7 linked regions of the Homo sapiens genome follow. The protein of the gene in region 1 interacts with the protein of each later gene in a pairwise test. Each region holds a gene or a part of one and is shown in the gene's direction. Other genes may lie near its edges. The genes, in order: ROR2, MTMR9, STYX, PTPN20, PRR20E, PPM1F and PTPN12.

Evidence for each region.
Region 2: the proteins of ROR2 (region 1) and MTMR9 interact in a two-hybrid assay, tested with the Homo sapiens proteins (one study listed by BioGRID and IntAct).
Region 3: the proteins of ROR2 (region 1) and STYX interact in a two-hybrid assay, tested with the Homo sapiens proteins (one study listed by BioGRID and IntAct).
Region 4: the proteins of ROR2 (region 1) and PTPN20 interact in a two-hybrid assay, tested with the Homo sapiens proteins (one study listed by BioGRID).
Region 5: the proteins of ROR2 (region 1) and PRR20E interact in a two-hybrid assay, tested with the Homo sapiens proteins (one large-scale study listed by BioGRID).
Region 6: the proteins of ROR2 (region 1) and PPM1F interact in a two-hybrid assay, tested with the Homo sapiens proteins (one study listed by BioGRID and IntAct).
Region 7: the proteins of ROR2 (region 1) and PTPN12 interact in a two-hybrid assay, tested with the Homo sapiens proteins (one study listed by BioGRID and IntAct).

What each region holds. Positions count from the first base shown.
Region 1 is NC_000009.12:91,940,229-91,943,728, reverse strand, and holds part of ROR2 (tyrosine-protein kinase transmembrane receptor ROR2 isoform 1 precursor), read left to right. Parts: intron 1-3,500. UniProt on the Homo sapiens protein: Tyrosine-protein kinase receptor which may be involved in the early formation of the chondrocytes. It seems to be required for cartilage and growth plate development. Phosphorylates YWHAB, leading to induction of osteogenesis and bone formation.
Region 2 is NC_000008.11:11,315,816-11,319,315, forward strand, and holds part of MTMR9 (myotubularin-related protein 9), read left to right. Parts: intron 1-43; exon of another isoform or gene 44-857; coding exon 858-1,078; exon of another isoform or gene 1,079-3,500. UniProt on the Homo sapiens protein: Acts as an adapter for myotubularin-related phosphatases. Increases lipid phosphatase MTMR6 catalytic activity, specifically towards phosphatidylinositol 3,5-bisphosphate and MTMR6 binding affinity for phosphorylated phosphatidylinositols.
Region 3 is NC_000014.9:52,754,166-52,757,665, forward strand, and holds part of STYX (serine/threonine/tyrosine-interacting protein), read left to right. Parts: intron 1-2,385; coding exon 2,386-2,446; intron 2,447-3,153; coding exon 3,154-3,190; intron 3,191-3,500. UniProt on the Homo sapiens protein: Catalytically inactive phosphatase. Acts as a nuclear anchor for MAPK1/MAPK3 (ERK1/ERK2). Modulates cell-fate decisions and cell migration by spatiotemporal regulation of MAPK1/MAPK3 (ERK1/ERK2).
Region 4 is NC_000010.11:46,984,428-46,987,927, forward strand, and holds part of PTPN20 (tyrosine-protein phosphatase non-receptor type 20), read left to right. Parts: coding exon 1-137; intron 138-2,912; coding exon 2,913-3,128; intron 3,129-3,500. UniProt on the Homo sapiens protein: Tyrosine-protein phosphatase targeted to sites of actin polymerization in response of varied extracellular stimuli. Has tyrosine phosphatase activity towards various tyrosyl phosphorylated substrates.
Region 5 is NC_000013.11:57,165,855-57,169,996, forward strand, and holds the start of PRR20E (proline-rich protein 20E), read left to right. Parts: upstream 1-1,342; 5' UTR 1,343-1,556; intron 1,557-1,710; 5' UTR 1,711-1,729; coding exon 1,730-1,781; intron 1,782-2,802; coding exon 2,803-3,416; 3' UTR 3,417-4,142.
Region 6 is NC_000022.11:21,942,849-21,946,348, reverse strand, and holds part of PPM1F (protein phosphatase 1F), read left to right. Parts: intron 1-240; 5' UTR 241-300; coding exon 301-506; intron 507-2,914; exon of another isoform or gene 2,915-3,500. UniProt on the Homo sapiens protein: Dephosphorylates and concomitantly deactivates CaM-kinase II activated upon autophosphorylation, and CaM-kinases IV and I activated upon phosphorylation by CaM-kinase kinase. Promotes apoptosis.
Region 7 is NC_000007.14:77,624,295-77,627,794, forward strand, and holds part of PTPN12 (tyrosine-protein phosphatase non-receptor type 12), read left to right. Parts: intron 1-2,410; coding exon 2,411-3,381; intron 3,382-3,500. UniProt on the Homo sapiens protein: Dephosphorylates a range of proteins, and thereby regulates cellular signaling cascades. Dephosphorylates cellular tyrosine kinases, such as ERBB2 and PTK2B/PYK2, and thereby regulates signaling via ERBB2 and PTK2B/PYK2.

The sequences.
Region 1 (3,500 bases):
TACACAGATGGGGGAAAAGAAACCGTAATGTTGGACTCAGTGCTTTGACGGTGTATCCTCAGCCTACAGGAGAAACAACAACCTGAAAGCAAAACTGGCACCCTTCTTAGTAGGTTTGATTTTCATAGTGGTGTGGGTATATCCATTCTGAAATGACTTTGTGTGAATTGTGAGATTAGACAGATAAGAAGTGTGTTAATAGTGTTGTAGCCAGGGTGCTCACTGAGGAAGGAGGGAGATATAAGGATGGAATAGGGGAAGGCAAGGAAGAATCTGGAGGGGTTGAATTGGAATTGGAGGTATCAGTGTAACTCATGCTTTCATTTATATATATATTTGGTATATATTATGTTAAATTATGCACCGTAATTTGTAAAACATACTCTACACATAACAGTTATTTCTTAGCACCTCATTAGCAGTGAGCTTTCTTAGTGCCCAGATGTTGGTTTCTCAATACTGTTGCATCTTAAAGGAGCTAGAGAACCTTGGAGAAATGACTGAATATGGGATGGGGACAGGGAAAAATACACAATAAGCCTGAAACGTGTTCTTGTGTTAGAACGCAAGTGAGTGGTGAAAAGTGGTGGGGGCATGGCAGATGTACTCAGGGGCCAACTTGAAGGAGTTGCAGCCAAGTCTGGGACCATTTAGGCATCAGAATAAATAAAGACAAGCATGGATTATACAAGGAACAAAATAGGCATCCAGGACTCACCATTGATAATAAGTACATAACTATATGTATGAGTTTCTTAGGCCTGCTGTAGCAAAATGCCATAAACGGGGTGACCTAAAAACCAGAAATGTATTCTCCCACAGTTTTAGAGGCTAGAAGTCCAAAATCAAGGTGGCGGCAGGGCCACGATCCCTCCCAGGGCTCTAGGGGAGAAAACTTTTTTGCCTCTTTTAGTTCCTGGTGGCTCATGGTGCCCTTGGTTTGGAGCTATATCACTTTGACTTCTATCGCCATTTTCACATGACCTTTTATTGTAAGGACACCAGTGATTGGATTTAGGGACCACTGTAAATACAGGATGATTTAATCTCATGTTCCTTATTACTACTGGAAAGACTATTTCCAAATAAGGTCACTTTCTGAGCTTCTGGGTGGATAGGGAAACACTAATTTACTACAAAACCTAAGTGGGAGGGGTGGGGAAGAGAGGGCACTTCCTAGAGCAAAGTGCCAACTGATAAATGGGAGGCGAGTTGGGAATAATCACATTTTACAGCAATAACTGTACGGATTGATTTGGGCAGGCGTCATGAATGAGTGCTAAACTCATTAAAGAAGACATGTTTGATGAGGAGCAGGAAATGTCTGTGGTCTCAAAGGATTTCCCCACAGATTCCTTGTTGGCAAGGGACAGTTGCTAACTGTAGACTGGCGAGATTTGCATCCCAATACCTGGGTGGTCCAGGTTAATGCCACAGATTTGGGCAGATGGATGCCGTCCTTCCCAAGAGCATACATCATTTAGGTTGCTTTCTATCTGGGGAAGAGAGTCTGATTATGAGCAAAAATCAGCAAACGAAATGGAGGGACATTCTATGAAACAATGGTCTGTAGCAAAAATTGTCGAGGACATGAGCGATGAAACAGGGCAGGCCAGGTCCAGCTTGAAGAAGACCACAGGGGCCTGGTGTGGTGGCTCACGCCTGTAATCCTAGCACTTTGGGAGGCTGAGGCCAGCGGATCACAAGGTCAGGAATTCAAGACCAGCCTGGCCAACATGGTGAAACCTCGTCCTCACTAAAAATACAAAAGTTAGCCGGGCGTGGTGACATGTGCCTGTAATTCCAGCTACTAGGGAGGCTGAAGCAGGAGAATCACTTGAACCCGGGAGGTGGAGGCTGCAGTGAGCCGAGATCGTGCCACTACACTCCAGTCTGGGCAGCAGAGCAACACCCTGTCTCAAAAATGAAAGAGAAGAGAAGAGAAGAGAAAGGAGGGCAGGGCGGGGCTGGGCGGGGTGGGGAGACAGTACAATACAGTACACCACAGGGTAGGTAGAGAAGACAGTACAATACAATACACCACAGGGACAAGGCAGTCCAGTGCATGTGCTGGCCCTGACCCTGTGCTGGAGGGAAAAACATGCTGTCGTGGATACTAACGGAACCACTGAGGAAATTGGAAGGTGAGCGTAAGTTATTTAAACGTGTTGTCAGACTTGTCTTTCCTGAGTTTGTTAATTGTGCAGAGGTGGTGTAAGAGGATGTCTGTACTCATAGGACATACACGCTGCCATGTTAAAGGATAAAGGGGCTTGATGTCTCCAGCCTACTATTGTCATCTCAGACCATGATAAAGCCCATGGGGCAAGAGTGACACATTAGTGAACCTGGGCAAAGAGTAGAGGGAAGTTTCATGCACCATTCTTGTAACTTCTCTGTAAAGGCGAAATGGTTTCAAAGTAAAGAATTAAGGCCGGGCACGGTGGCTCACGCCTGTAATCCCAGCACTTCTGGAGGCTGAGGCGGGGGGATCACGAGGTCAGCAGATCGAGACCATCTTGGCTAACACGGTGAAACCCCGTCTCTACTAAAAATACAAAAAATTAGCTGGGCACGGTGGTGGGCGCCTGTAGTCCCAGCTACTTGGGAGGCTGAGGCAGGAGAATGGTGTGAACCCAGGAGGCGGAGCTTGCAGTGAGCCGAGATAGCGCCATGGCAGTCTGGCCTGGGTGAAAGAGCGAGACTCCATCTCAAAAAAAAAAAAAAAAAAAAGAATTAAAAATGTTAAATTCTAACAATGGATGGCTGAAGCCAGTGCAATGAACAATGGAGTTTAGCACATGCTGTTAAAAGAAAGACTCAAGGCCCGGCGAGGTGGTGGCTCACGCCTGTAATCCCAGCACTTTGGGAGGCTGAGGAAGGTGAATCACCTGAGGTCAGGGGTTCAAGACCAGCCTGTCCAAAATGGTGAAACCCCATCTCTACTAAAAATACAAAAATTAGCCGGGGGTGGGGGCTGGGTGCCTGTAATCCCAACTACTCGGGAGGCCGAGACAGAGACAGGAGGATCACTTGGACCCAGGAGGCAGAGGTCACAGTGAGCGGAGATCGAGCCACTGCACTCTAGCCTGGGTGACAGAGCAAGACTCTGTCTCAAGAAAAAAAAAAAAAAAGAATTGCACGTTATGATTTTATTGGAAATGGTGTCACAGGGACTGAGGATGGATGCGATCCAGGTGCTTTTGAGGCCAGACAGCATTTCATTGAAGGGACTGAAAATCTCTGTCTTTGTCTAGTTTCTGGATTGCCCCAAGTTTTCTGATTTTTCTTTCTTAAGATTTTTATTATAGAAATTCCAACACACATAAAATTAGACGACTGCAGTGAACCGCTGTATATTTTTCACTCAGCTTCAACAGTTGCCACGTTCATTTCGTTTCATTTCCCCCGGCCTACTTAACAGTCCCCAGACAGCCTTAATTGTTTACCTGAAAATACTTCAGCATGAATGGTAAGAACTGTTTTTTTCACACCATCTC
Region 2 (3,500 bases), on another chromosome or scaffold:
TTCCTCATGATGCATAGTAGACAAACAAATGAGTATGACTGACTGATTTTTATGTTATTTTAATGGATATCACAATTCTGTGAACCACTGTAAAATTTCTATGTCATTACCTTTGTCACATACAGTAGTAGAAGGACCCAGAGACAAAGCAGATCTGTGAAATTCCTAGCAGAGTATGATTTGTATTAAGGTCAGCATTTGGGTTCTGAACAAGACAGTCAAATGAGTCTTAAATTTACTTTGGTCAGTAGATGGCAGACTCTTGCTGTTCATTTTGGGAGAAGAGGGTAATTAATGACAGCTTTATCTCCTGTAGAAAAGTACTCATAAAGATCTTTCAACACAATAACTTTTCGTATATAATTAGAGATTTACTATCAGAGCTGACATTATAAAGGTGATCAGAGTTCCATATCTGTCTCCACTTAGGGTGAGGCTTGTTTAGTGTACAGCACAATCTACAGTGTTAGACAGAGGTGATGATTCTTCTTTGTACTGAGAGCTTATGTTCTTTGACTTTGCTCCAGGTTTTGTAGACCTAGAAAGGTTTATTTTGTAAGTTTATTATTGCTTAAGTTCATTATTCTTCCATGGGATATTCCAAGGGCAGTGCAGTTCCTGTGGTCACACCTTAGCCGCGCAGCCTCATTAAGGATTTGGAAGTGTGTCTTTTTCCTTAGTTGCTGCCGCTATTTATTTTATACCAAGAAATCATTAATCTGTACAACAGCTACCCTAATTATATGATGTTCCAGGTACTAGGAGTGTCACTGTAATTGTGTATAGTGGTGTCGGTAGAATGCTCTGTCATGTGATCTCACCAGGATATGACTGTCACGCCTCCATCTTCCCCCTAGGCTGGTCACCCATTCCAGCAGCGCTGTGCACAGTCAGCCTACTGTAACACCAAGCAGAAGTGGGAGGCTCCTGTATTTCTTCTCTTCTTGGACTGCGTGTGGCAGATCCTTCGTCAGTTTCCCTGTTCTTTTGAGTTTAATGAGAATTTCCTCATCATGCTCTTTGAGCATGCTTATGCCTCACAGTTTGGAACATTTCTGGGCAACAATGAAAGTGAAAGGTGAGTACACTGCTCACATGGGGACCTTTCCTTTTCCGTTGTTTTGGCTACTTCCTAAGTAGCCAGAATCTCCTAGGAGACGACGATTTGGATCTATATTAAAATTATTTATAAAAAGGTAGAGGCTACAGTTAATTATAATTTAAATGACCTGAAGTATATTCTTTTATGAGAGCATGTCCTAGACTTTGTTCTGTTAGGTTAAAATTAGTCCATACGTGAATTAAGGGGCAACCATTTTAAATGTTAATTTCTTAACATAGGATCATAGTATCTTACATGTGGAAAAAGCCTTAATTTATAATTCAGGTCTTCCCTCTAATTTTATTAAGAAAGTAAGATCCAGAGAAGTTACGTGACTTTTCCCAGGACATAGAGTCAGTTGGTCATCAAAAGTGTGGCCTAGAGCAGCGATCCCCAACCATTTTGGCACCAGGGACCAGTTTTGTGGATAACAACTTTTCTTTGGATTGGGTGGCAGCGGGATTGGTGATGGTTTTGGGGTGAAACTGTTCCATGTCAGATCATCAGGCATTAGATTCTCATAAGGAGAATTCTCATAAAGGCGCACCCTAGATTCCCCACATGCGCAGCTCACAGTAGGGTTTGCGCTTCTCTGAGAATCTGATGCTGATCTGACAGGAGGTGGAAATACGCGCTCATCTGCCACTCACCTCCTGCTGTGTGGCCAGTTCCTAACAGGCCACGGACCCTTACTGGTCCATGGCCTGGGGTTTGGGGATCCCTGGCCTAAATTACAGGTCTTCCTCCTCCTGCTCCAGACTTTGTTACACCTAGAAACTGTCCTCAGGCCCAGAGTGGCAAGCTCACCTTACAGCCCAGGCACCATCAAGTGTATAGGTTCATTTACAAGATTCACATCAGAATGATCTTTCAGGGAGGTTGCCTGGTAATCTCTTCAGGGTACAATCAGCAGCCTTCCTTGCCTCATTGCTGGCAGCCACCATTTTCTGAAGCATGTGTTGCTTAGCCCTGGACTGTACTCTGGCAGGGAGGGACAGGAGGGATTGGCAATTTCTATAGCCAAGGAAGTTTGGTGAATATGACATAATATCCTCCCCACTTAGAGGGGAGGATTAACTCCCCCACTTAGAAGGGAGGATTTAATGATTAACGCATAATCATTAAAGGCTTTAAGACACTCTTCAGTAAAGCAATGTATATAAGTTTAATTCAGCATTTAAGAAATGTGTTTGATGATGAATTTTTTTTGGTGTTATACCTGTTAATATCCTCAGGACTAGCTTTCAAGAAGGGATCAAAATAGATTCCCATTCTGTTTCCCAGTTGGTAGAGGCTGCCAGCAATGCTGATGGGAAGGATTCTGAAGTGGTGTCAGGCTCAGCCAGAGCAAGTTCAGTGGTTGGCCGGCCATGGGCAGGGGGCACAGGGCTGGAGGCAGTGGATGCAATAATGTCCTGTCCTTGTCATCCCTGGTTCCTGGGAACATAGCGTGGGACATGCTATCCCAGCAGTTAAAGTCCAATGCCACATAGGCTCTATGATTATGTGGATTATTTTTATTGCTAGCTCAAAAAGAATGCAGTAAGTTGCACGTAGCTCATAAATAATCATGTGGTTTCAGAGACAAAACTGATTTTATAATAAAATCTCAGCTTAAACTGAGTCTTATGAGAATTGAATGTATTATCTTTTTGGTTGATGTAAGGTTTACCACAGACTGTCTTTCAATCTGTGTTAAAATGTATTTTTTTCTAAAACATGCCGATCGACTGTTATCCTTCTCTAACAGTTTATTCACATGATAAAGAGTGTTCCAGAGTTTTAGAATTATTATGAAGCCTGTTCATTGTATGTGGATATAGATTAAATATGTATTTATGTCAAGATTCACATTGATTTTTCATCTTTGACAATCTGTATTTTATGTACATGTAAGTTATTTTCCCTAAAAGCTAAGTCTCTAAAAAATTTTAAGTTTTGTTTGAGATTTGACTCAACCTCCACTTTTAATATTAGTATGGGCGTAAGAAGGATACAGTGGACTTTGGGGACTTGGGGGAGGGACAGAAGGGGGACGAGGGATAAAAGACTACAATTAGGGTTCATTGTATACTGCTCGGATGATGGGTGCACCAGAATCTCACAAATCGCCACTACAGAACTTACTCATGTAACCAAATACCACCTGTTCCCCAATAACTTATGGAAAAATTAAAATAAAAAATTAAAAAAAAAAACAATTAGAAAGTGGTTATCAAACAATGTAAATAATGAAGACCCTGGGGGTCTTTCCAGACATTCATATTTGTAAGCTATCCTGGTTGTTTCTGCACAACAAGCCCTTTCTTAAAGAAACTAGAAAAATAAATAGGACATAAATGTCAAAAAGTGTATAATTTTTATGTTTATATTATAGGCTTCTCAGAAACAAAAAGGT
Region 3 (3,500 bases), on another chromosome or scaffold:
GCGTGAGCCACTGCGCCCGGCCTGAATTTTTTATAATTATGAAAGAAATACTTTTTTTTTTTTCAAAGATAGGATCTTTCTCTGCTGCCCAGCCTGGATTGCATTGGCATGATTTCTGTTCATTGTAGCCTTGACCTCCCAGGCTCAAGCAATCTTCCTGCCTCAGCCTTCCAAGTAGCTGGGACTACAGGTGCACCACCGGATCGGGCTAATTTTTTTTTTTTTTTTCTAGAGATGGGGTTTTGCTGTGTTGCCCAGGCTGTTCTTGAACTCCTGAGCTTAAGCGATCTACCCACCTCAGCCTCCCAAAGTGCTGGGGTTACAGGCATGAGCCACCACACCTGGCCATGAAACACTTATTCTTTATAAGTACTTCGGAAGGTATAGAATGACACCAAGAAAAATATTTAAATCATCTACAGTTCCACAATTCAGAGAAAACACTTTTGTTAACATTTGGAATATTTCCTTTTAAATCGTTCTCTGTTGTGTATGTGTATTTACGTATATATGCATAGAATTATTAAAGAAAATGAGAATGTTGTATTTTAAAATATCAAACTATATAAGGTGAAACTAATCTTAAGAAAAAACAAAAAAGCCAAAAAATCATACTATTCATTTCTAATGTGTACAGACTTTTTGTTTTAAATTATAATGTTGTTTGTGCAGGTTCTTTATCCTAATGGAAGAACCATTTCTCCTTAAACTTTTACAATACTAGCTTCTTAGAGATTGATAGTTCTACTAGCAGTGCTTGACACTGAAAATGTTATGCGTTAAAATATTTAATTTCATTCTGAGTTAACATTTTTCCCCTGAAGCATTATTTTATGTAACTGGAATACCCAGTCACTTCAGGATACAGTCATTGTCGAAATCCTTGTAGGTTAAATATTGGATTTTCCTCAGATCCTGAGGTTCAGCTTCTGTGTTTTTTTTTGTTTGTTTTTTTGTTTTTTTTTTTTTGTTTTTGAAACAGAGTCTTGCTGTTTCACCCAGGCTGGAGTGCAGTGGCACAATTTTGGCCCACTGCAACCTCTGCCTCCCGGGTTTAAGTGATTCTCCTGCCTCAGCCTCCTGAGTAGCTGGGATTACAGGTGTGCACCACCATGCCTGGCTAATTTTTATATTTTTAGTAGAGATGGGGTTTCACCATGTTGGCCAGGATGGTCTTGAACTCCTGACCTCAGGCAATCCACCTGCCTCGGCTTCCCCAAGTGCTGGGATTACAAGCATGAGCCACCATGCTCAGCCTCAGCTTCTCTGTATTAAAGTCCTGAATTCTTTGAAGTTGTTACCACCTAAATGATCATTGAAAAACTGTATTTTTTAGTGCAAAATTGTTCTTAAAACTAATTTAATAACTTAGCTAATTGCCTATAGTTGTGTTAATAAACAGTGGTCTTAGAAACGCTTAGAAATGGAAGTTTTTTACAAAAATAAGCTAACATATTTAAAATGCCTTTTAAGTATTTTGTAAAGTGTAAAATTCAGTACAGGTGCTCTCTCAGCTAGTTTTTTTTTTTTTTTTTTTTCCCCTTTACTAAAGATGAGTTCAAACAGTGAATGTTTGACTCCTGGTTCCATAGACCATACCTTCCGTTTTTATTTGTTCGTTCTCTTAGACTTTGGACTTCCTCTGAAATGTCCTCTGTAGGTTCATGAGCAGGAGTCACAGGACCACTTAGAGAACAATCTTCTGGTCTTAGAGAAATTGGTAGAAATAAAAGAATAACATAACGATTACAGGTACTTTTGTCTTTATTTCTAGGTCCACTCTAATCTAGAGGAATGTATCTTCCTGCTTGTGATTTTTCTATTTTAACCAGATGGTTCATTATATGCAAATAAAATATGTATTTATTTTTGAGATAAGAATCTTGCTCTGTTACCCAGGCTGGAGTGCAGTGGCCCAATCACAGCTTACTATATCCTTGACTTCCAGGCTCACACAGTTCTACCTCAGCCCCCTTAGTAGCTGGGACTATAAGTGCACACCACGACACCCAGCTAATTTTTTAATATTCTGTAGAGATGGAGTCTCCCTCTGTTGCTCAGGCTGGTCTCGAATCCCTGGGCTCAAGTGATCCTCCCACCTTGGCCTCCCAAAAGAGTTTCTTTTTGCTGGGATTATAGGCATGAGCCATTGTGCCCAGCCTGATGGATTTTTTAAATACTTAAATATCAGAGATGTTAACATGGTGTTTCAGGTTTTAATGCCTTCAAGCAATGTAAAATCTACCACACAGTTCTTGGGAATATGATACTTTGAAAGTTGTTTTGCATTCTTGCCATGGTTAACAAGAAATAATGAGTTATTTTTTTAAAGTACCTTAAGTGTTTTACTTAAAGTGTGCTTATCACAAAATACTCTATTTTCAGATATTTAGTCCTGGATATTGCAGATAATCCAGTTGAAAATATAATACGTTTTTTCCCTATGGTAGGTACCAGTATTTTTTAAATATCATTTAAAATTTATTTATGATTTGACTTCTTAGTTGTGCTTTTTTTTTTTTTTTTTTTTTTTTTTTTGAGACAAGAGTTTTACTCTTGTTGCCCAGGCTGGAGTGCAATGGCGCAATCTTGGCTCACCACAACCTCTGCTTCCCGGGTTCAAGTGATTTTTCTGCCTCAGCCTCCCAAGTGGCTGGGATTACAGGCATGAGCCGCCATGCCCAGCTAATTTTGTATTTTTAGTAGAGACGGGGTTTCTCCATGTTGATCAGGCTGGTCTCAAATTCTCGACCTCAGGTGATCTGCCTGCCTCAGCCTCCCAAAGTGCTGGCATTACAGGCGTGAGCCACCGTGCCCAGCCCCTTTAATTGTGCTTGTAAAGCTTGCTACTTTTACTTTGCTATGACTGAAAATTATGTGATTGTGTTTTTAAAAGAATTATTTGTAGAAAATTTTTTATGATCTCCAGAAATTTGAGGAATCATATTGTGAATGTATTGGACTTAAATTAAATTTTGGCTTCTTTAATTTTTTTGGACTTGTAATAGTTCTATTTATAGCATTTTGGAAATTGGTGAATCAAAATAATTTTTATACATATAAATTAGGAAATTGTTTTCAATAGGTTTCATTTTGTTTCATTATATGCATTTATTTTATGCTTACATTAATCCACATGTCTTTTGCCTCCAGACTAAGGAATTTATTGATGGGAGCTTACAAATGGGAGGTAAATAACATTTCCTTTCCTTAACTAATGTTTATATTTTGATTATTTGTTAATTTTTTAGTTGGTATTTGTCTTAAATGCAGGATATGGAAGTTACAATTATATGTAGTAGCTTACTCCCAAATTTGTATTTTCCCAATTACTTGTTTCATTTGGATAGGCTTTCTGGAGTATCCCTGTAGACTGTTTTCAAATTCTCTGTGAGCTTTCAGTTTCTTTAATAAGAGTCTGCTATATTCTCTACACAGTTGATAATAACAAATTGTAAAGATTTGAAGATATCCAAGTGATTATAGTATATAAGGAGTTA
Region 4 (3,500 bases), on another chromosome or scaffold:
GAATTATCAAATGCTACCATTACTGGCCCATTTCTCTGAAGAAGCCATTGGAATTGAAACACTTCCGTGTATTCCTGGAGAACTACCAGATACTTCAATATTTCATCATTCGAATGTTTCAAGTTGTGGAGAAGTCCGTAAGTTTTTAAACATCAGTATTAGATATATGTTTCACCACATAAGCAGATGTCTTAGAACTAGAAGTTAGGAGTAGGATGGAAAATCGATCGATGATACTTCTTAAGTAACTTTTTACTTGTCCCTGGTACCAGAAGCCACCACCACTTCTACTTCTCCTCAACCAGATTCTGTGGAGAAGAAAAAATTGGAAAAGAGAGGTGGGGCAGGGAGAGTGACTGTTGAAGTTGTCTGATTCTGGGTTATACCTGCCTCTGCCAAATGTAGCAGATACGTATTGAGTCCTTAAAGTATGCTAATCACTGGGCCAGGCACTATCAGTACTTACCGAATAGTGGAGAGGTTGGTTACACTCACTGATAGATACCTAACTTACCGTGTTCAGTGATAATGTTGAGATATGTCTTGGGCACTTTGGGGCTCAGAAGGTAAACACTTGGCTTTACTTGGGGTTTTGAGACAGGTTTACTGGAGGAGGTGGCATTTGTTTTGAGAATTATGCAAATGAAAAAGATGGAGGGAGAAAGTAGATGATCAAAATATAAAATAGCATAAGGTGTGTGTAGAGACAAATATAAGTAGTTAAGTGTTTCTGAAATGTAAAAGTTCAGTGCCAGGGAGTAATAAAAGATGAGATGAGGTTCTCAAAAGTAAGCAGGGGCCAGCTAGAATGTGAAATGTCTTAAATTTCAGCTAAGTAGCATGAACTTTATTATGAAGATAATTGGGAGACATTGAAGAATTTTAGTAAGTGACATGATCAACTACGGCTGTTGGCATGGGGGTGGAAAGCACAGACGCAAGTGTTTTGCAGATAAAATTGGGAGACATATGTGACTTATGACTTATGATTTATAAGTGACAGAGGAGGGGTTGAAAATATATTCAATACAGTAACCACATGTGGATATTTAAGTTTAAATTTAAGTTATTTAAATTTATGTAAAATAACAAATTGAGTTCCTCACCTGCAAGTAGCCACATTTTAGGGCTTATGAGTGGCATGTTGATAGTGGCTACTATATTGCCACTATTTAAGACATTTGCTTCAGTATAGGAAGTTCTGTTGAGAAGCATTGGTCTAGAATAATTCATGGATTCCTTGGTCTAATAGACTTAGAAAACAGAAAAGGAATGGTTTATAGGAGAAAGCAATGAGTTAGATTGCTCTAGTGGATTCAGTTGGCAGGTAGGTGATACATGTGTTAACACGAGTGAAGGGAATAGGAGTTGAACAGGAAACTTGCAGAGAATGGTGAGTTTTGGAGTCATCACCAAAGAAGTTGATTGGAGCACAATCACCAGGAAAAGGGTTGCTGAGTGATGCTGAGGTTTGACCCATACATTTGTAGTAGCAACAAAATATGTGATTATGTGTATTTTTCTAGCAGTATAACATTGAGATCCCTGAATACAGGTTATGGGACTGATCCAGAGAGAGAGATTAATTTTAAGGAGTTGGTTCAAGTGATTGTGGAGGGTTGGCAAATCTGCAGGGTGGGAAAGTAGGCTGAAGACCCAGGGAAGAATTGGAGTTTGAGTCCAAAAGCAATCTGCTGGTAGAATTCCTTCTTGCTCATGGGAGGTCAGTTTTTGTTCTCTTAAGGCCTTCAGCTGATTAGATGAAGCCAACCCACTTTATGGAGAATAACCTGCTTTACTCAAATTCTACCAATTTAAATGTTAATCTCACCTAAAAAATACCTTCACAGAGGCACAAAATAATATTTGGCCTAGTATCTGGATACCAGGGCTCAGCCAAGTTGACACATAAAATTAACTATCACAAATTTCAGTCGACACTGTGGATTAGAATAGAGCTCTGAGCACTAGCATCTTTATTCAGAAAGCTTAGGAAAAAGAGGTGCATTCGGGAGAAGCATAGGAGAAGTGAGAAACTCATTTTGAGTTCTTCCATTAGGGTCCCATGTGTGATAAAATAAGGGCCCCACACTGAGGAAAGGGTCATGATCCCTTTGGATGAGATATAGGTAAATTCAAAGTGCTTTATCTGACAATGCTGGGAAGAGTTTCATGACTCCACTTCAAGGGGGCTCAGCACAATAGTGGGACCCACAATCTACTCTCATGGTCATTGACTACCCTGTCTTCATCGCTGGAAGAGATCGGTGCCTCTCTTGTCAGACACCTATATGTCTTAATTAAATTTCATATGTCATTTCTAAACTAAGATACTTTGCCTTTTGGTCTTATTCCTAACATGACAGTCCATCTCTCACTCTAAGCATTTTGAAATCTTGGTTTTCCTGTAGCCTCATGGTACAGAAGAATGATGGTAGATTAGAATTCAAGACACCTACATTACAGTTCCAGCTCTAAACGTGTGAACCTTCTGACCTAGCATACATCTCTCGTCCCCCTCATCCTTAAATTTTCATCTGTAAAATGGAGATAAAATGGTGCCTATCTCACATGGTTGATGTGAAGATTAAAGGAGAGAATTCATGTGAAGCCCCTAGCATAGTAACTGCCACATAGCAAGTGCTTAATTTTTGTTACCTGTTAATACTGGTATTTTTATTGTTGTTACTGTGCTCTCCTTTGTAAAATGGAGAAAACCTCTATTCCTAGCAACTTCCAGAATTCTTATAAACATCAAAAAGAGGTTTGAGTACTTTTTGAAAGTTCTATATAATACCAAGGTAATACCATATAGCCATTATTATTATCATTTGAATATTAGAAGTTGGCGTGAGGTCTCTAATATAAGAAATCAATAAATGTCTTTCTCGCTCTGTTTCTTTCTCTAACAGACGGGAACTAGTCACTCTGTAAAACAGTTGCAGTTCACCAAGTGGCCAGACCATGGCACTCCTGCCTCAGCAGATAGCTTCATAAAATATATTCGTTATGCAAGGAAGAGCCACCTTACAGGACCCATGGTTGTTCACTGCAGTGCCGGCATAGGCCGGACAGGGGTGTTCCTATGTGTGGATGTCGTGTTCTGTGCCATCGTAAAGAACTGTTCAGTAAGTGTGTGAATCAAGCAGATACACTGATGCTGTTGGTGTTTACACACTACATTTAATAGCCTGATCATTTGGAAGACTAATATTTGGTCTTCAAAAGCAACTTAGTAAATCAAAAGCACATGAGCTTTGGATACCTGATTCTCACCGAACTTGCTGCAGGTTCCTGGGGGTGTTTGTGAGGATTAAAGTATGTATTGTAAATAATGGCTTAGGACAGTGTCTGGAACATAATAGATACACAGAAAATGTGAGTTCCATTTCCTTTTCCTTCCCTGTATCTTACACGGGGTGTTTAGACTCTTACTAGAGAATGTTGATGGAATGTGCCTGTTTTTAATGAATATAAGTGACAAGCACATAAGAATGTGA
Region 5 (4,142 bases), on another chromosome or scaffold:
CTCAGGCCTTCCAAACAAGCCTGGGCACATAGCGAAACCTCGTCTCTCCAAAAAAATCCGAAAATTATCCCGATGTGGTGGCGCTCACCTGTAGTCCAGCTACTCCGGAGGCCGAGACAGGAGAATCACTTGAACTGATTCTCCTATCTCAGCCCCCCCCCCCCCCCCCCCCCAAGTAGCCGCAGCGAGCCGAGATGGCACCGCTGCACTCCAGCCTGGGCTACAGAGCGAGAACCCGTCTCTGTAAAAGACACAAGGATGCAAACCAACCAAATAACCCACTGTGGGATCCCCTCCAGCGTCCTGCTGTGTTTCCCGCTGTCTTCCTCCACCCGTGAGTGCACCCACAGCAATAAAAGCCAGCGGTGTGGGTCTCACACGCATCTCCAGCCCCGTCGCCATCGCGCTGAGCTCGACTCTTTTTACAAAAGGCCACTTGACATCCTCACTTGGCAGTTCAAAAGCCCCTTCAACCAGATGTGCGCAAGCCAAGCTCCGCAACTTCCCGTTCAGAGCAGGTTCTCGGTCCACCTCTGCCTGAATGAACCGGCGGGCTACCAAGGCCGCAGTCTCTTCCTCAAGGGCTGTCCACACTGGGTCTCGCTTTCTCTTGGAAATTTCTCTCCCACCAGGGAACTTTCTCCTCCTCTACCTCCCTGAGTCTCAGTCTAACAGCACCCTGCGCCCAACCCCGAGGGCTGCAATAGCCTTCTTGCCTCTCCTGACTTATTCTGCGGACCCTGGGTTGGCGCTCCTTCACAGCCAGGCTGGTCGTTTCTGAAATGTTAACCCGCTGCCGGACACCGTTCCACGGTTTTCCGCTGCCTTGGAACAAGACCAGCTCCTGCGCGGACCCTGCCTCCACCTCGCACCACCTCCGGGCCTGGACTTGGCCTCCCGTCCATTCCCAGAATGTGCCGGGCTCCCTTCCAGTCCGGGCCTCAGCACACTCTCTTCACTCCCCTTCCTCCCTCCCTGCCTCTCCCAACCCGGTTCAGGATGACTAATTTCAAACGTTATGTTCCAGATTTCAGCCCAGATATCCCCGCTTTGGATGCTTTCCTTGACCATGCTCAGATCTAAGCTAATCGCATCTTCCTGTCAGCCGCTTTCAGGGCACCACACCTCATTGTGCTGACACTCAGAGGTCATTATGCAATTTTTTTTCCTCGATGATTAGATTAATCAATCAACCACGGACGTCTAGAAATGGCGGCATCTCAGAAGGGCCCCCATTTGACTGGCAGGGGACTGGCCCAATGCGCCTCGCAAGCCCAGCCAGGCCCGCCCCAGCCGGCCCCCCTCTGACGACGCCTGTCCCTTACGCGACTGCCTTGCTGCCATATAAGAGGGACGGCGCTCGGCCTCCAGCAGTCGGCTTTCTGCTGGGCTCGGAGCCAGAACCTGCTGCGTGCTCCCTCCAGACTCCCTGGCTGCGGGTGGACTACCTCAGAGCTACAGCGGTGAACCTGTGGACACCTCCGACTCCTCGGGCCTCTCTTCGTCGAAGAGTCTCCTAATTTTCAGATCTCCGGAGCCAGCTGTGGGAAGATCAGGTGTGTGTCTGGGGGTCCCGGAGGCGTGGACGGATCTCGGGTGGGTGCAGTTGGGGACAGAATCCTCATTCCCCTAGAAAGGCCACGGCCATCCCCCTGCCTTGTCACCTCTGTCTTCCTAAATCCGTTCTTGCTCTCTTGTTTTTCTCCCCAGCCCCTCCCGCCGATTGCTCATGGAGGAACCAAGGCCTTCGAAGCGACTTCGCTCCATGGCCCCTAATCAAGGTACATCAAACGCCTGCCACTCCTCTCTTTTTAATTTCGTCTGTTCCCCAATTCTTCCCCAATGGTTGACACTCAAACTCAATCAAGCATTCTCTGTTTCACCTTCTCCTAGCCTGCCTCAACCTGGGCTGCTTGTTGGAAGTCAGCTCCCGGGTTCCACATCATCTGGGAAATTCCTTTCCCTCTTCCGAACCGTAATCCCATTTCCCAAATCTGAGATTTGCTGTTGTTGTCGCTGTTTCCTTCTGTTTAGTTTTGTATTACTGTTTCTCCGTAGCAGAGCGAGTCCTCACGCTACGTCTTGATCTATGATAAACCGGTACTTCCACCTTGTTCTTTCCCGGAGGAGTTGGAATTTTCCGGCTGTTGCCACGTTGTTCTCCAAAACTTTTCCCTTCATACGCTGAGTGTCCTAAATCTTTTAATCTTGTCTAGTTTGACAGATGCATAACAATAAAGCATCCACTGAAAGGAAATTCTTTAACATCTTGCTTGTCTGAAACATCTTCATTCTCCCCTCCCAGATTCTTCAGCGAAACTTCGGTTGGACAGGAAATTTTAGGTGGGAAATTCATTTCCCTTGAAATTTCGAAGACATTTTCTGTTATGTTCTAGACTGAACTGCTGCTTTTGAGATGTCTGACTTTTGAGACATGTGGAATCCTAGCCCTTTCCATGTGACTTTTCCTTTCTCTGTCTCCCGCTCTCTAGAATCTGTTAGAATCTTCTCTTTTTCCTCAGCACTCTGAAATTTTCTGGTGAAATGTCTCAGCCACAGCATACCTCTAATTCTCTTATATTTCATCCTTCTTTCCATCATTTTAGGTTTTTGCTTTGTTCTGTGGGAGACCTTCTCAACTTCTTTCTCCAACTTCCGTGGAGAGTTTTGTTTCTTCTCTCACAATTTTAACTTCAGAAATCCCTCTTTTCTCTGAGTATTTATTTGTAAAAGTATCCTATAACTGCTTGACGGGTGAAGTTCCTTCTGTCTCTCTCTGCTCACGCTCCGCTTCTCTTTTAGCCTCAGGTGGGCCTCCTCCAGAGCCAGGCTGCTGTGTTGCGGACCCTGAAGGCTCCGTGGAAGCAGATGGGCCCGCACAGCCAGCCCAACCCGCAAAACCCATCGCTTACGTGAAACCCTTCAGACGGCAGCCCCCAGCTCGCCCAGAGTCACCCCCTCCTGCAGAGAGAGGCCGGCGCCGGGGAGGAAGCCGGCGGCCAGGGCGAGGCCGTGGCAGAAGGGCTGGGCCCCGCGGGGACGCTGGCCAGAGACAGGGGGCAGAAGGCTTGATGGCACCGGACGTGCACATCCAACTGGACCACCATGGAGAGCCAGGCCACCAGGGGGAACCGGAAATCACGGAGACCGCAGCCTTCTCCCTTTCTGAAACAGGTCCTCCGCCTGGAACTGTGCAGGAAGGCCCTGGCCCCGACGTGGCGCAACCTGAGCTGGGGTTTCAGGAGCCGCCCGCTGCTCCTGGGCCTCAGGCTGTTGACTGGCAACCCGTCTTGACCCTCTATCCCTGCATCGGGTTTAGGGCTCTGGGTGACTCAGCGGTTTTACAAGTCATTCAAACCCCCCAGGGCACCTACGTGCAAGGGGTCCCAGTGTTCCTCACCGACATTGCGTATTGACCACTATCTGCCACCCACGTTGTTCCCAGCCTCCCTTCCTTCCACCTGGACGTTCCCCCCAGCCCCACTTCTGCTCCACTCCTCCCCCGACTGGACCTGAAGCCTGAGCTTCCCCTGAACTTGGAGTACGCAACTTACAACATGCAAGCTGCCAAACACCCTTTCTGTACAAGGCGATTGGAATGGAACTGTCATGTACAGTGAAAGTACACGTCACGTTTTTCAGCCAAGAAGAAGCCAACCCAGACAACCTGGAAGAAGTGGGATGCAACAAGGATCACTAAGCATGGAAATTAGGAAACTGTATTCTTAAGTCCAGAGAAGTACGATTCTGGAAAAAGGATTGATGACCTAGAATTAAAATTCCAGAAGACACTCATATAGACATGTGGGACATGCGAAAACTCAGAAGGAGCTAGAAGTTACTAAAGTGCTTCTCTAGTGCCTGGAGACGATAGACTGGCTGAATATAAGAGCAATAAAAATCTAGACTGACACATTTTTAAGTCTCAACGTGGGTACCCTTTGGGAACCACTAAATGAATTGGAATAGAAGGTAAAATTTCAAACAGATTGAGGAAAAAGGGGATCAAAGGACATGTGACGAATCAGACAAAAGGTGTTGGGGTGGGGGGGGGGGCGGTTAACGGAAGCAAGGAGAGTGCATGACTCACTGGAACCGCTAAACCAGGAATCAGTAATTTGACGGCAGTGTCCTTGGCTTCC
Region 6 (3,500 bases), on another chromosome or scaffold:
CACTTCTTGACAATGTCCACCCAGCTGCTGCTCCTGGCACCATCTCCTGAGACCGGATCTCTGGATGCCCACAAGTCCCCACCTGGACTCATGTCAAAACAGTGGCCAGGGTTGTCCCTCCACCCTCTAGTGGCCCTGAACCATGAGGCCATGCACCTGCCACATGGTGCTTGCAGGTGGGCACCTGCATTGCTGGTGCCATGGCCCCCTGATTCTGCTGACTCTGACATTTCTCCCCAGGGTGAAGCCTGGAGACCCTCTTGCCCTGGCCTAGCTGCAGGCCCCCGGGATGCTTTGGGCATGTCCTCTGGAGCCCCACAGAAGAGCAGCCCAATGGCCAGTGGAGCTGAGGAGACCCCAGGCTTCCTGGACACGCTCCTGCAAGACTTCCCAGCCCTGCTGAACCCAGAGGACCCTCTGCCATGGAAGGCCCCAGGGACGGTGCTCAGCCAGGAGGAGGTGGAGGGCGAGCTGGCTGAGCTGGCCATGGGCTTTCTGGGCAGCAGGTAGGCCTGTGCACCCCCAAAGGGGACGGGGAGTAAGGGCACGGCACCAGGGCCGACAAGGGATGTGGCTGCTGCTCCCCTACACGTCCAGCCCCACACGGGGATCTGCAGCCCCGGATCCCTATGCAGCACCATGTGGAACTCCCGTGGCTGCTATGGCAAAGCACCACACACTGGGCACTCAACACAGCCAAAGCTCATTCTTTCACAGGGCTGGAGGCCAGAGTCCAAGATCAAGGTGGCAGCTGCGCCATGCTCTCTCAAAGGCTGCAGGGAAGAGTCTGCCTTTCTGTTAGTGCCTGGCCTTGACTTCCTGGAGGTCCTTGGCTTGTAGACTCATTCCTCCTAGCTGGCCTTGTTGCACACGGCATCTCCCCATGTGTGTGTCTGTGCCTTCACACCTCCCCACCCTGCCTGCTGTGTGTCTGTGACTCCTCCTCTTGTAAGGACATGGGCATTTTGGACCAGGGGCTGCCCTCCTACAGTGTGATCTCATCTTTCTTTTTGTGGAGAATGGGGTCTCGCTATGCTGCCCAGGCTGGTCTCGAATTTCTGGGCTCCATGGATCCTCATGTTTTTGCCTCCCTAAATGCTGGGATTACAGGCATGAGCCACTCCAGCCAATGTGACCTCATGTGAACATAACTAATTACATTTGCAAAGACTTTAACTCCAAATAAGATCATATTCTGAGCCACAGGGGGCTGGGGCTTCAACATACCTTTTAGGGAACACAATTTATTGCATAGCAGCTGATAAGCAGTACGTCCTGTTTCCGATCCGTGTGATGGACGAGGAGGCAGAGGTGGGTAGATGAAGAGGCTGGCCTGAGGCCTTACAGTCAAGGAGTGGCAGAGCCACATGGCACCCCAGCCACCACGATCTGAGAGATAGCTGGCACTGTCCCCCTTCCACAGGTGAGGAAGCTGAGGCACAGAGAGGTAGCACAACTAGCCGAGCAGATTTCGGGGAAGATAGAGAGTTGGGTGTCCACCGGCAGACAGTGTGTAGCTGTCGCCTAGGCTGAACTCAGAGGTCCTTTCCTTGGAAGACCCTTGCCCTCCCCTTCATTTATTCATTCATTCTGGAAGCATTTGTCCCATGAAAGATGGTGAAGGACAAGGTCTTTTCTCGAACCCTCTCTGCTCAGACAGGGTCTTGGAGTTAGGCTGTCTGTCTGGCACAGGGGACAGCTCATGGAGGTGAGCAGGCTGGTGGGCCGCGTGCTGTTTCTGTGAACCTAGTCCCTTGCTGAGGGGATGTGCGCATGGTCCCCAGTCCCAGCATCACCCAAATCACCTGAAATATCACCTGAAGCCATGACAGGCCCTCAGCCATAGCTCCCTCTGACAGAGCCACCATCCTCGGTGGCTGCCTCAGTATCCCCCAAGTGTGCACTTCCTTTGCCCCTTGCAGCGAATCAACTCTGTTCCTGACACCCACCAAGGGCCTATTTTCCTTGACCCCAGGCCCTAGCAGAGTCAGTGACTTGTGCTCTCCCTGTGCAACATGGGCACAAACATTGCTAAGTGTCAGCCACATGCAAGGGCTATGCCACCCAGCATCCCCCACAGCTGCCTAGAGCTCAGGAGGAAATGTCCGGTGACCACGCTCCATGAGGTCATGGCATGCGCAAAGGGTGTTATTGGCTTGTTTTGAGGAAATATTTTAGATATGTGGCACAAAGTGAATCAGCCCCCAGTGGTGGAGCAGAGTGGGCCCAGCAGGGGTGCCAATGCACGGGAGGTGAGGAAAGGCCTCACGTTCTGCCTTCTTGAGAGGAGCAGGTGGCACTCTGCAGGGAGCAGGGGAGTCCAGACCAGGGAGTTCTGCAGCCACTGGGTCTTCGTGGAGGTGGCATGGGGCCATTGCTGCCTTGAGGCAAAAAGCCAGGCCCGGGACAGAAGGGTTGGTGCACTTTGGCCCAAGCATGAGGTGACCGGGCAAAGCCAAGCGGTGCCAGCCCCAAGCTGGGGATCAGATGGAAAAGCCATCCCGGGGAACAACAGAGCCCAGGGGTTTGCTGGGCCTGCGTGGGGCACAGGTGCTGAAGACGGACAGGCCGCAGCACCGGGGTGACAACATCAGCCTTCAGTTCCTGGGCAGGGGGAGAAGGGCGCAGAGCAGGGTCCCAGGGAAGGATCCAAGGTGGGAGGGCCTGGAGGGCTGAGGAGTGAGTAGGCAGTGCAGGTGACCTGCCCAGGAGGGCCCCGAACCAAAGTGTTGGGGTCAGTGCTGGGGGCGCAGGGGAGGGCAGTGGGTTTTGGTTTTGATGCGAGAGCAGCCAGACTTGTTGAGCGGCTGCTGTGTGAGCCACCTAGTGATGGGTGCGAGCAGGAGGGGTGCAGAGCTCCCGAGTCTCCTCAGCCCCCAGGAACCCACCTTACATGGTGAACTAAAATGGAGTATTTGAAGTTGTTATATGTTCCAGCCATCTTATTGGATTTATTTTTTAAGTTATTTTTGTTCTTTTCTAGCATCTTCTTTCACACGCAGGTGTGGATGTGCATAGGTGTAGTCAGCACTTGGGGTCTGAGCCTCACACGTTGTCTACACTAAGCCTGGCTGTCCACACACACGCACTCACATGTGCCCATACACAGTCACGAGTTCCACCTCCGAGCTCTGCTTCCCGTGTCCCAGCCTGAGGAGGGGCTCTTGGGCATGAAGGGCTTTGAGCATCTTGGTCCCTGAGCTCTTTCACAGACCGTAAAAGGCATCCTTCTGGAGGCCATCCAGGAGTCAGAACATCCAGTCCACAGGGGGCTATTTACGCCTTGTCTCCGCTCTTGTTTGGAGCCTCCTGTCACATATTTGAGTCCCTGAGCAGTGCATACCGTACACTAATGATTTGAGTGTGGTTTTTGTCTCTGCCACTAGACTATAAGCCTCTTGTAACAGCCCCTGCCCCAAGGTCGGTGAGACGTGTTTCTCAGGCACCTGGGCCTTGCATACACCTTGGCTTGTCCCTGGAGCATCTTCTTGCCTTGTGTA
Region 7 (3,500 bases), on another chromosome or scaffold:
AACTTGAACAGATATAGGAATATCTTATGAGAGTATTGCTGTCATTTTAATATGATCAGTATTCTGGAGATATTCATTTATCTTCTCATGTCCTAGGAATGTGGGAATGTGTCTAGAGAATCTGAACTTCACAGAGTCTTTATTTATTTATTTTATTTATTTTGAGACAGAGTCTTGCTCTGTCACCTAGGCTGGAGTGCAGTGGCGTGATCTCAGCTCACTGCAACCTCTGCCTCCCGAATTCAAGTGATTCTCCTGACTCAGCTTCCTGAGTAGCTGGGATTACAGGCGCACGCTACCATGCCTGACTAGGGTTTTGTGTTTTTAGTAGAGACGGGGTTTTGCCATGTTGGTTAGGCTGGTCTCAAACTCCTGATCTTGTGATCCGCCTGCCTTGGCCTCCCAAAGTGCTAGGATTACAGGCGTGAGCCACCATGCCTGGCCCACAGAGTCTCTTTTAAGGGGAAACCTGGTGTACCATGTGATTACTGCCAGTTATCTGGTTGGATAAAAAAAGGTTGATCACCTGGGGGGAGAAAAAAAAGCAAAAACTCTGAGGTGGGGTCCAGTGGCTCACCCCTGTAATCCCAGCACTTTGCGGGGGCCGAGGCAGGCAAATCACTTGAGGCCAGGAGTTGGAGACCAGCCTGGCCAACATGGCAAAACCCCATCTCTACTAAAAATACAAAAATTAGCCAGGTGTGGTGGCATGTGCCTGTAGTCCCAGCTACTCAGGAGGTTGAAGCACAAGAATTGCTGGAACCCAGGAGGTAGAGGTTCCAATGAGCCAAGATGGTGCCACTGCACTCCAGCCTGGGTGACAGAACAAGACTCTATCTCAAAAGAAAAACAGAACACAAAAACTTAAATATACAAGCCCTCAAGAAGTTTGCTTCATATAAAGTTCTTAAAAAGCAACAAAGCCTGGGCAACATAGTAAACCCTATCTTCTTCTTTGGTTTTTTTTTTTTTTTGAGACAGGATCTCATTCTTTCACCCAGGCTGGAGTGCAGTGGCATGATCAGAGCTCCCTGCAGCCTTGACCTCCCCAGGCTCAGGTGATCCTCCTACCTCAGCCTTCCTAGTAGCTGGGACTACAAGCATGCATTGCCACATCCAGTTAATTTTTTTGTATTTGTTAAAGACACAGGGTTTTGCCATATTGCCCAGGCTGCTCGCTCTCTCTCTCTCTCTCTCTCTCTCTCTCTCTCTCTCTCTCTCTCTCTCTCACTCTCACTCTCACTCGCGCTCTCTCTCTCGCTCTCTCTCTCTTTTTTTTTTTTTTTTTTTTTTTGGAGACAGTCTTGCTCTGTCGCCCAGACTGGAGTGCAGTGGCGTGATCTCAACTCACTGCCATCTCCACCTCCTGGGCTCAAGCAATTCTCCTGCCTCAGCCTCCCAAGTATCTGGGACTGCAGGTGTGTGCCACCACACCTGGCAAATTTTTGTATTATTAGTAGAGATGGGGTTTTACTGTGTTGCTCAGGCTGGTCTCAAACTCCTGAGCTCAATTGATCCACCCACCTTGGCCTCCCAAAGTGCTGGGATTACAGGCGTGAGCCACCATGCCTGGCCCCTATTTCTTTAAGGAAAAAAATAAAGGCAACTAGAGGGTATAACCCACCCGAACAAAGGAGTATACCCAGAAAGAGGAAAATGAGACCTGGGAAACAGGAGAATCTGAAACCAGAGAGAACATTAGCTCTGTGATGGACTAGGGAACCAGTAGTCCACACTGGAGCAGGAGGCCAAAAGTTACTAACAAGGATGTCTGTGGTATTGATACTTACTATGTGTGCTTGTCATTATTGAGAGGAGGTATACCAATCTGCAAGAAAGTTAGAAGAAAAGCTGAGTAACTGATGATGCATAGAGAGCTAAGCCATCAGAAATCCAAGGCAGTCATTAGGGGAAAACAAGACACTATAGAAGAAAAGATACGAAATCATGGTGTCATAGATGGGAATACTATCTGCAGTCATACGACTGAGGTAATGAAAAATTACAATATAACAGTATTGGAAAGATAGAGAAGGACACTTCCACAGTAGGAAGTCAGTAGAAAATGTGTGAAACAAAGATCAAGAAATAACTTTTGAAATAGTCTGAAATACAGAGGTGTAAATTTTAGAAGCAGCTATAAAAAAATGTTGAAAGTTGATGCCTCTGGCTAACAGGAGGGCTGCGGGGCAGAGACTATGTTTTTCATTCAAAGTCTTGTATTTGACTTTTTAAACAGTATATGTGTATTACCTTGATGAACATTAAATTTTCTTAGTCTGAAAAACTGCAGTTTTTATTCGCAACCAGATTGTAATGGCTCTTAATATGCTACTCTTAGCTACATAATTCTCAGGTATCAACTTGTTTAACAGTCTTAAAATGCCCTTTTTAAATGTTTGTTTTTCAGTTGCCTTGTTGAAGGGGATGCTAAAGAAGAAATACTGCAGCCACCGGAACCTCATCCAGTGCCACCCATCTTGACACCTTCTCCCCCTTCAGCTTTTCCAACAGTCACTACTGTGTGGCAGGACAATGATAGATACCATCCAAAGCCAGTGTTGCATATGGTTTCATCAGAACAACATTCAGCAGACCTCAACAGAAACTATAGTAAATCAACAGAACTTCCAGGGAAAAATGAATCAACAATTGAACAGATAGATAAAAAATTGGAACGAAATTTAAGTTTTGAGATTAAGAAGGTCCCTCTCCAAGAGGGACCAAAAAGTTTTGATGGGAACACACTTTTGAATAGGGGACATGCAATTAAAATTAAATCTGCTTCACCTTGTATAGCTGATAAAATCTCTAAGCCACAGGAATTAAGTTCAGATCTAAATGTCGGTGATACTTCCCAGAATTCTTGTGTGGACTGCAGTGTAACACAATCAAACAAAGTTTCAGTTACTCCACCAGAAGAATCCCAGAATTCAGACACACCTCCAAGGCCAGACCGCTTGCCTCTTGATGAGAAAGGACATGTAACGTGGTCATTTCATGGACCTGAAAATGCCATACCCATACCTGATTTATCTGAAGGCAATTCCTCAGATATCAACTATCAAACTAGGAAAACTGTGAGTTTAACACCAAGTCCTACAACACAAGTTGAAACACCTGATCTTGTGGATCATGATAACACTTCACCACTCTTCAGAACACCCCTCAGTTTTACTAATCCACTTCACTCTGATGACTCAGACTCAGATGAAAGAAACTCTGATGGTGCTGTGACCCAGAATAAAACTAATATTTCAACAGCAAGTGCCACAGTTTCTGCTGCCACTAGTACTGAAAGCATTTCTACTAGGAAAGTATTGCCAATGTCCATTGCTAGACATAATATAGCAGGAACAACACATTCAGGTGCTGAAAAAGGTAATAATATAGTGTCAAATACTTAAATGTCTTTCCTATGTGCTAGTCACTGTTTTAAGCACTTTAGCTGTATTGATTTATTATGTTTTATTCCACACTCTACCATAGAACCTACAGCA